Regions from separate parts of the Homo sapiens genome. Here region 1 is linked to region 2. Evidence: fine-mapped expression QTL. Tissue or cell type: transverse colon. Region 2 holds a variant in brackets; the other region holds the start of a gene. All regions are shown on one strand. Distances are from middle to middle.

Region 1 (5,208 bases), 24 kb before region 2:
ATTACCCAGTCTCAGGTATTCTGTTATGATCCCCTGGAAGAGTTATACTACTTCCAGGTCTAGCCCATGGTAAATCCCACACTCCCCTCTGAGGCCACCTTCTTCCCTCTGCAGAGACCCTGGAGTTAGAGTGGATTGGTTGTGTCTCTGGCCCCAATTCTTCTCCCGAGGCTGCATTCCACCCTTTTGCTATGTGACTTTGCAGCCCTTCTCACTGCAGAGACAGGTTCCTCTCCTTGAGTTTGGGGAAGATGCAACACATGCAGGGGTTTGAAAACACATTTGTTTGTTTCTGCTTTTGTTTTTGCTCCTCTGCAATTTCCTTGAAACCATGCCTGAGGTAGCCTGTGGGAAAACGAAACAGCACCATTGACCTAGTCTTTCAGCCAATCCCACTGCATTTGTACAATGCAGTCTGACACCAGAGGAACTGCCCAGCCAAGCTCAGGCAAAATTGCTGACTTCAGACTCATGAACTAAATAAATATTTGTTTCATTTGGTGGTTGTTCTTATGCAACATTATGCTGGCACTAGAAAAATGAAACAGATGGGAATCAAAAAGACTGAATGAAGCAGAAACCCAGAAGCTACCCCACAAGCAATCACATGGGACTCAGATGTGAATGGACAATAAGCTTTTATTGCATTGAAAGGTCATTGCAGTGAAAGGTTGGGGATTGCTTGCTGCTACAGCTGAATGGATTCTATTCTGACCAATACACACAGAAAGAGATCACAGACTCCCTACCTTAGAAGAAGGGAGGTGGTAGATGAAATGAACTGTATGAAGAGCCACTAGCCTGGCCCACACACAGAAGAAGGACTGGCCCGTCTTCTTGAAGCCCATGCTCTGGTAGAGGGCCATAGCAGAGAGCTGGATGGTGCCGGTGTCCAGGATAACTTCACTGTAGCCCTGGTCCCGGGCAAACTGGAGGACAGTCCTGACCAGGGCTTTTGCTATCCCCTGACGACGGTGCTCACTGTCCACAAAGAGATGAAACAGCTGCAACCGCTTCTCCCTCAAGGTGGGATCATCAACAGGCAGAGCTCCTACCATGCCCACCACCTTCTCTTCAGACTCAGCCACCCAGAAGCAGGAGCCACGCTCACTCAGGTAGGATTTGGTAATGTCAGACATGTCTGTGCACAATGTCATGTCCACATACTCCGTCCAGGGTTTTTTGGCAAGGAACCACAGGGCAGGGAAGAGGCTGATGCTGAACACGAGGGCTAGAAGCCAGGATCCAGAGACCAGGAGTAGGGCGAGGGGCCCCCCAAGTAAGAGTATGAGGGTTCGAGGCAGCTTCAGCAATTGCCGGAAGGTGGCTGGGGCATGCTCGGCCATCCCCCGGGAGAGCAAGCCCACAACCCACTGGCGGTCGCTCTCCTGGTATTTGCGGATGTGACAAGGAGCCATGGACAGACTTCTGTGTCTGAAATCTCTAAGTCCAGGAGACAGAGCTAGGCCTCCCTGCACGCCTTTACGTCAGACTGGGGAAGAGAGAGAAAATCATGTGAGTGCCTGCATGGCTCCCAGCCTTGCAGGAACAGGGAGACCTGCTCAAGGGTGTGTCTTTCCGCGTTTGCCCATGAGGAAGCAGGCCTCTGCCACTGGGAGAAGGTAGGGTCAGAAAGACCTGCATTGGAATCTGGTTCCATCCCTTTCTAGCTGTGTGACCTTAGGCATGTCACTTAACCTCTCTGAGCCTCCATTTCTTCAACTATAGAACAGGGGAGAAGAAAACCTGCCTTCTAGAGTTGTTTTGAAGATTGAATAAGATGCCTTCTATAAAGCCCTGGTAGATGAACTACCCACCGCTCTTCCTTTTTCTGTTTCCTTTTTCTGGCTCTCTCAGCTTCTCCGTGCATTGAGGGGGCACCTACCTCAGGCAGGCCACACGTGCAACCCTTTTGTCCTTCTCCAGGGACCATACATCGCAAAAATTCTCTGTCCAACACAAGTTTCAGGAAAGGCTCCCTCCAGCTTTATTGTAAGTTTTTAGGTTGCTGAAGTGGCATAAGAGCCAAGCATAAAAAACAGCCCAGCCTCCAGATCCCAAGGAAGGTGCATGCTCAGAGCACTGTCCTTCCACCCAGTCCCCTCACCTGTCACCACAAGAGCCTTGAGTGTCCAGGGAGCTTCAGCTCTCAGCCGCTCACTGGCATCCAGGAGATACCGTCTGGGGCTTGCTCACCCCTGGAAAGTAGACTGCCTGCCTTATTGCTTGGCTCCTGAATGTTTGGTAATCATCAACCCTAGGGTCAAAGAGCTGGGCTGTAACACAGCAGGGAGCCCAGTGTGCATTCCTCTTTGTGGTCAAAGGGAACGACCTGGAGGGGGAGACTCAGGGTCTGGAACCGCCTGGGTTCCTTGCCCTTCTGGAAGGCCTGCCACCTCTCTTGCCTGTTCAGGCCCCGTGCATCTCTCTGCCACCTGGCACACTTAGTACTCTCGGTCCCTGTCCACATATACGATCCACCCTGGTCCTTGTACACATATACGACGAGCCTGAGAACTGTACCATTCACCCTGCAATCAGTCACCATTGGCCAGAAGCCGAGTCCCCATGCTTGGCAACAAGGCCCTTCCCAGCTAGGCTTCTCCTCGCTGAGGTTTCCCTGGTCCACGAAGCATCTGTTGTTGGCAGTTCCTTGCACTCACCTCACCAACCCCCATCTCCACCCATTCATTGATTCAGTCAACAGTTGTGTGTCATGCACTTCCTGTGTCCTGGGGTCATTTCAGCCATGAGCAAGGTTGACATTCGGCTTGACAGGCATGGCTGTGTGTGGCTTGTGTGTGTTCTGGCTGTTGGTCAGAGGCTGTGCCACACCCGTTGTTAAATATTTTGCACTGCAGATGTTGGGGAGGCCCAAATTCATGCTCTTGTACCCGACGTGGAGCTGATCCCAAACACTGACACATGGGTGCTTGGAGATAGAGAAAGTTGTATTCGATTTGGCCAAAGCAAGAAGGCAGGAGAGCAAGATCTCTCAACTTCAGTTCAACAAAGAAGCAGCAGCAGAATGTTTTTATGCAGCTAGAGAGTGAGGAAGGGGGAGTTCAGGGGGATTGAGAGGAAAAGTCTGTGTTTCCTCAGTCTGAGATAACACCTTGTGCAACCAGGCTTCTCAGTGTCAGCAGCTGGTCACAGTGTCCTTCAAGGCATTCATTCATTCTGCAAACTTTTCCTGACCCTGAAGGAATGTCTTCCTGCTGAACAAAGAAACAGTACATGAGCAGTTTATCATTATGTTGTGGGAACAAGGAATATTGGACCAAAAGCAAGTGGTTAACATGTGCAAGCCAGCAACGGTCTGATCAGAATGTTCATTATTTCAGTCACTAAAACATGGTGTGGTGCTGAAATCTCAAGGGGCCCAATTACAAGGATGCAACATATACAAGATAGGCAAAAGCAAAACCTAACAGAAAAAGCCCTTTTCCACACCAACTTACATGCTATTGAAGGGAAACTTCCCTTCCAAAGATTAGCTAACCTATTGATGATCAGCCACGCTGGGCCCGTCATCTAGGTTAGGTAGTTTGGACTCTATTCCAAGAGCAAGGGGAGGACATTGATATGCACGGAGGGGAGGAGGTGTGTGTGTGTGTGTGTGTGCGCACGCAAGCATCACTCTGGCTGCAGGTGGACAATGGATCTGAGGAGGTAGGAATGGAAGCAGCTACCCCTCAAGGCTCATGCCACATCCAGGCAAGAGCGGGGCCTCCAGTACAGGGATGCAGGTGCTCACTGTACAAGAGCAGCTGGCCCAGAGGCTCTGGTGGGAGCTAAAACTGGGCCTCCCTCTGGTTGCCAAGCCATGAGCCATGGCACGAAACTGAGACTGGCCAAAGGAAAAGGCAACCTTTTCTTATTTGCTCAAAGGCGTTGCTTGCCTGCTAAACTCTGCATCCAGTGGGCTGCATGGCTTGAGGCTGTGCCTAGCTCTGGGTTCACAAAGAAGCCGCCTGGGTTAGCAGAGGCCCATGAGACAGCAGTGGCTTCACCAGAGGGAGGAAGTCAAGAAGGTGAGACATGAGCCGTATGGAGGTGCATTTGGGGCAGAAATGGCAGGAGTTGGAATGATTCACACAGGGAGGAGGATGAGGAAGGGCTCAGAGACGACAGCCAGGCTTCTGGTAGGGGCATTCAGGAAAACACTGGAGAGAGCCCAGATCTGGAAAAGTCAAGGCTTCCCCTAAAGGTGCTGCCCTGCAGCCTTCTTCAGCAGAAACCAGAAGCTGGGAGTCAGCAGCAGGAACCCAGGGCCAGCCAGTGGAGGCTGCTGAGATTCCAGATCTTTGGTACCCAACACCACCTCCGAGGAAAAGTCTAAGGAGCATCAAGTCTGGGCAGGAAGTCCATGGCTCATCTTTAGAGTGTTCTCGCAACATTTCAGTGTCAAGCAGGAGTTGGCCTAGGAATCAAAAGAGGTGAGCGGTGGCTCCAAAGCACCACTGAGTACTTCTAGTGTGAGTCTAACCAATATTCAGTCAGAAACCTGCCGGTCACGTGGAGGGGGAGAGGTTTGTGCTCCGTCCCTGTGTGCTGTCTCTCCCTCCATGCTCACCCGTGGCTGTGGCTTCCTCAAAACACAGCGACCTCACTTGACATTCAGGCGTCTCTTGCTCCCAGGATTTACTGTGACTTCTGCATTTTTGTAGCTTTCCTGATAAAAGCCTGGGCTTTCCTTGTCGGACCTGAAAGATTCATTTATTCATTCAACAAACAGTGGCCGAAGGCTTGTTATGTGCTGTGCCTGGACTTGGCATGAAGGCACCAGATGTCAGAAGCGAGGCTGCTGCCCAGGAGGACACACCTGATGGGGCTCTGGGACCAGGACGATGGTGGAGACATCACATCCGGAATAACTTTGTTAGGAAGGTGAACTTGACAGTTAGGACTTAGTTCTCCTTGAAGACGTCCTTCACATCCCTTGTGAGTTGGATTCCTAGGTATTTTATTCTCTTTGAAGCAATTGTGAATGGGAGTTCACTCATGATTTGGCTCTCTGTCTTTTATTGGTGTACTTGTGATTTTTGCACATTGATTTTGTATCCTGAGACTTTGCTGAATTTGCTTGTCAGCTTAACGAGATTTTTGGGCTGGGATGATGGAGTTTCTTTTGTGGGCATTTAGTGCTATAAATTTCCCTCTACACACTGCTTTAAATGTGTCCCAGAGATTCTGGTCTTTGTTCTC
Region 2 (5,208 bases):
GTGTGATGTTCCCCATCCTGTGTCCAAGTGTTCTCATTGTTCAATTCCCACCTATGAGTGACATAGGTGTTTGTTTTTCTATCCTTGCGATAGTTTGCTCAGAATGATGGTTTCCAGCTTCATCCATGTCTCTACAAAGGACGTGAACTCATCCTTTTTTATCACTGCATAGTATTCCATGGTCTATATGTGCCACATTTTCTTAATCCAGTCTGTCATTGATGGACATTTGGGTTGGTTCCAGGTCTTTGCTATTGTGAGTAGTGCCACAATAAATATACGTGTGCATGTGTCTTGATAGTAGCATGATTTATAATCCTTTGGGTATATACCCAGTAATGGGATGGCTGGGTCAAATGGTATTTCTAGTTCTAGATCCTTGAGGAATCACCACACTGTCTTCCACAATGGTTGAACTAATTTACAGTCCCAACAACAGTGTAAAAGTGTTCCTATTTCTCCATATCCTCTCCAGCACCTGTTGTTTCCTGACTTTTTAATGATCACCATTCTAACTGTTGCGAGATGGTATCTCATTGTGGTTTTGATTTGCATTTCTCTGATGGGCAGTGATGATGAGCATTTTTTCATGTGTCTGTTGGCTGCATAAATGTCTTCTTTTGGGAAGTGTCTGTTCATATCCATTGCCTAGTTTTGATGGGGTTGTTTGATTTATTTCTTGTAAATTTGTTTACGTTCGTTGTAGATTCTGGATATTAGCCCTTTGTCAGATGGGTAGATTGTAAAAATTTTCTCCCATTCTGTAGGTTGCCTGTTCACTCTGATGGTGGTTTCTTTTGCTCTGCAGAAGCTCTTTGGTTTAATTAGATCCCATTTGTCTATTTTGTCTTTTGTTGTTATTGCTTTTGGTGTTTTAGTCATGAAGTCCTTGCCCATGCCCATGTCCTGAATGGTATTGCCTAGGTTTTCTTCTAGAGTTTTTATGGTGGTAAGTCTGACATTTAAGTCTTTAATCCATCTTGAATTAATTTTTGTATAAGCTGTAAGGAAGGGATCCAGTTTCAGCTTTCTATATATGTCTAGCCAGTTTTCCCAGTACCATTTATTAAATAGGGAATCCTTTCCCCATTTCTTGTTTTTATCAGGTTTGTCAAAGGTCAGATGGTTGTAGATGTGTGGCATTATTTCTGAGGGCTCTGTTCTGTTCCATTGGTCTATATCTCTGTTTTGGTTACCAGTACCATGCTATTTTGGTTACTGTAGCCTTGTAGTATAGTTTGAAGTCAGGTAGCGTGATGCCTCCAGCTTTGTTCTTTTGGCTTAGGATTGTCTTGGCAATGCGGGCTCTTTTTTGATTCCATATGAACTTTAAAGTAGGTTTTTCCAATTCTACGAAGAAAGTCGTTGGTAGCTTGATGGGGATGGTATTGAATCTATAAATTACCTTGGGCAGTATGGCCATTTTCACAATATTGATTCTTCCTATCCATGAGCATGGAATGTTCTTCCATTTGTTTGTGTCCTCTTCTATTTCATTGAGCAGTGGTTTGTAGTTCCCCTTGAAGAGGTCCTTCACATCCCTTGTAAGTTGGATTCCTAGGTATTTTATTCTCTTTGAAGCAATTGTGAATGGGAGTTCGCTCATGATTTGGCTCTCTGTTTGTCTGTTATTGGTGTATAGGAACGCTTGTGATTTTTGCACATTGATTTTGTATCCTGAGACTTTGCTGAAGTTGCTTATCAGCTTAAGGAGATTTGGGGCTGAGGCAATGGAGTTTTCTAAATTTACAATCATGTCATCTGCAAACAGGGACAATTTGACTTCCTCTTTTCCTAATTGAATACCCTTTATTTCTTTCTCCTGCCTGATTGCCCTGGCCAGAACTTCCAACACTGTGTTGAATAGGAGTGGTGAGAGGGCATCTCTGTCTTGTGCCAGTTTTCAAAGGGAATGCTTCCAGTTTTTGCCCATTCAGTATGATATTGGCTGTGTGTTTGCCATAAACAGCTCTTATTATTTTGAGATATGTCCCATCAATACCTAGTTTATTG[G/A]GAGTTTTTAACATGAAGGGCTGTTGAATTTTGTTGAAGGCCTTTTCTGCATATATTGAGATAATCATGTGGTTTTTGTCTTTGGTTCTGTGTATATGATGGATTACATTTATTGATTTGCATATGTTGAACCAGCCTTGCATCCCAGGGATGAAGCCAATGTGATCATGGTGGATAAGCTTTTTGATGTGCTGCTGGATTCAGTTTTCCAGTATTTTATTGAGGATTTTTGCATCAATGTTCATCAGGGATATTGGTCTAAAATTCTCTTTTTTTGTTGTGTCTCTGCCAGGCCTAGGTATCAGGATGATGCTGGCCTTGTAAAATGAGTTAGGGAGGATTCCCTCTTTTTCTGTTGATTGGAATAGTTTCAGAAGGAATGGTACCAGCTCCTCTTTGTACCTCTGATAGAATTCAACTGTGAATCTGTCTGGTCCTGGACTTTTTTTGGTTGATAGGCTATTAATTATTGCCTCATTTTCAGAGCCTGTTATTGGTCTATTCAAGGATTCAACTTCTTCCTGGTTTAGTCTTGGGAGGGTGTATGTGTCCAGGAATTTATCCATCTCTTCTAGATTTTCTAGTTTATTTACATAGAGGTGTTTATAGTATTCTCCGATGGTAGTTTGTATTTCTGTGGGATCGGTGGTGATATGCCCTTTATCATTTTTTATTGCATCTATTTGATTCTTCTCTCTTTTCTTCTTTATTAGTCTTGCTAGCGGTCTATCAATTTTGCTGATCTTTTCAAAAAACCAGCTCCTGGATTCATTGATTTTTGGAAGGGTTTTTTGTGTCTCTATCTCCTTCAGTTCTGCTCTGATCTTAGTTATTTCTTGCCTTCTGCTAGCTTTTGAATGTATTTGCTGTTGCTTCTCTAGTTTTTTTAACTGTGACATTAGGATGTCAATTTTAGATCTTTCCTGCTTTCTCTTGTGGGCATTTAGTGCTATAAATTTCCCTCTACACACTACTTTAAATGTGTCCCAGAGATTCTGGTATGTTGTGTCTTTGTTCTCATTGGTTTCAAAGAACATCTTTATTTCTGCCTTCATTTCGTTATGTACCCAGTAGTCTTTCAGAAGCAGGTTGTTCAGTTTCCATGTAGTTGAGCGGTTTTGAGTGAGCTTCTTAATCCTGAGTTCTAATTGGGTTGCACTGTGGTCTGAGAGACAGTTTGTTATCATTTCTGTTCTTTTACATTTGCTAAGGAGTGCTTTACTTCCACCTATGTGGTCAATTTTGGAATAAGTGCGATGTGGTGCTGAGAAGACTGTATATTCTGTTGATTTGGGGTGGAGAGTTCTATAGATGTCTATTAGGTCTGCTTGGTGCAGAGCTGAGTTCAATTCCTGGATATCCTTGTTAACTTTCTGTCTCGTTGATCTGTCTAATGTTGACAGTGGGGTGTTAAATTCTCCAATTATTATTGTGTGGAAGTCTAAGTCTCTTTGTAGGTCTCTAAGGACTTGCTTTATGAATCTGGGTGCTCCTGTATTGGGTGCATATGTATTTAGGATAGTTAGCTCTTCTTGTTTAATTGATTCTTTTACCATCATGTAATGGCCTTCTTTGTCTCTTTTGATCTTTGTTGGTTTAAAGTTTGTTTTATCAGAGACTAGGATTGCAACCCCTGCCTTTTTTTGTTTTCCATTTGCTTGGTAGCTCTTCCTCCATGCCTTTATTTTGAGCCTATATGTGTCTGTGCACATGAGATGGGTCTCCTGAATACAGCATACTGATGGGTCTTGACTCTTTATCCAATTTGCCAGTCTGTGTCTTTCAATTGGAGCATTTAGGCCATTTACATTTAAGGCTAATATTGTTATGTGTGAATTTGATCCTGTCATTATGATATTAGCTGGTTATTTTGCTCGCTAGTTGATGGAGTTTCTTCCTAGCATTGATGTTCTTTACAATTTGGCATACGTTTGCAGTGGCTGGTACCGGTTGTTCCTTTCCATATTTAGTGCTTCCTTCAGGAGCTCTTGTGAGACAGGCCTGGTGGTGAGAAAATCTCTCAGCATTTGTTTGTCTGTAAAGGATTTTATTTCTCCTTCACTTATGAAGCTTAGTTTGGCTGGATATGAAATTCTAGGTTGAAAATTCTTTTCTTTAAGAATGTTGAATATTGGCCCCCACTCCTTTCTGGCTTGTAGAGTTTCTGCTGAGAGATCAGTTGTTAGTCTGATGGGCTTCCCTTTGTGGGTAACCTGACCTTTCTGTCTGGCTGCCCTTAAGATTTTTTCCTTCATTTCAGCTTTGGTGAATCTGACAATTATGTGTCTTGGAGTTGCTTTTCTCGAGGAGTATCTTTGTGGCATTCTCTGTATTTCCTGAATTTGAATGTTGGCCTGCCTTGCTAGGCTGGGGAAGTTCTCCTGGGTAATATCCTGCAGAGTGTTTTCCAACTTGGTTCCATTCTCCTCATCACTTTCAGGTACACCAATCAGACATAGATTTGGTCTTTTCACATAGTCCCATATTTCTTGGAGGCTTTGTTCATTTCTTTTTACTCTTTTTTCTCTAAACTTCTCACTTCATTTCATTCATTTGATCTTCAATCACTGATTCTCTTTCTTCCACTTGATTGAATCAGCTACTGAAGCTTGGGCATCTCTCACATAGTTCACGTGCCATGGTTTTTAGCTCCATCAGGTCATTTAAGGTCTTCTCTATGCTGTTTATTCTAGTTAGCCATTCATCTAATCTTTTTTCAAGGTTTTTAGCTTCTTTGCAATGGGTTCGAACATCCTCCTTTTGCTCAGAGAAGTTTGTTATTACCAATCATCTGATGCTTACTTCTGTCAACTCGTCAAAGTCATTCTCCATCCAGCTTTGTTCCATTGCTGGAAAGCAGCTTTGTTGCTTTGGAGGGGAAGAGGTGCTCTGATTTTTAGAATTTTCAGCTGTTCTGCTCTGGTTTCTCCCCATGTTTGTGGTTTTATCTACCTTTGGTCTTTGACGATGGTGATGTACAGATGGGGTTTTGGTGCGGAGGTCCTTTCTGTTTGTTAGTTTTCCTTCTAACAGTCAGGACCCTCAGCTGCAGGTCTGTTGGAGTTTGCTGGAGCTCCACTCCTGACCCTGTTCACCTGCGTATCACCAGCGGAGGCTGCAGTACAGCAAATATTGCAGTACAGCAAATGTTGCAGCCTGATCCTTCCTCTGGAAGCTTTGTCTCAGAGGGGCACC

Alleles and levels. Positions count from the first base shown, and alleles are read on the strand shown. Sizes are in standard deviations (SD) of each study's normalised expression.
For the expression in transverse colon of the gene that starts at base 2,212 in region 1, G is the high allele of the variant in region 2 and A is the other (moderate effect, 0.43 SD a copy in GTEx).

Evidence for each region. PIP is the estimated chance that this variant, and not a neighbour inherited with it, causes the effect. A credible set is the group of variants that fine-mapping cannot tell apart.
Region 1: NAT8 starts here. The variant in region 2 is the best candidate, but not a certain one, in a credible set for the expression of NAT8 in transverse colon (GTEx, PIP 0.69).

Annotation. Positions count from the first base shown.
Region 1 is chr2:73,640,211-73,645,418 of GRCh38, forward strand. NAT8 (N-acetyltransferase 8 (putative)) reads right to left here and starts at 2,212. Exons shown (of 2, transcript NM_003960.4): 1 at 2,108-2,212; 2 at 513-1,492. The coding sequence starts at 1,418. The coding sequence ends at 735. It also overlaps the pseudogene ALMS1P1.
Region 2 is chr2:73,664,677-73,669,884 of GRCh38, forward strand. It overlaps the pseudogene ALMS1P1. Among named protein-coding and RNA genes, the nearest start is that of NAT8, 25 kb to the left of the region's middle. The variant G/A (reference allele first, on the strand shown) is at 2,014.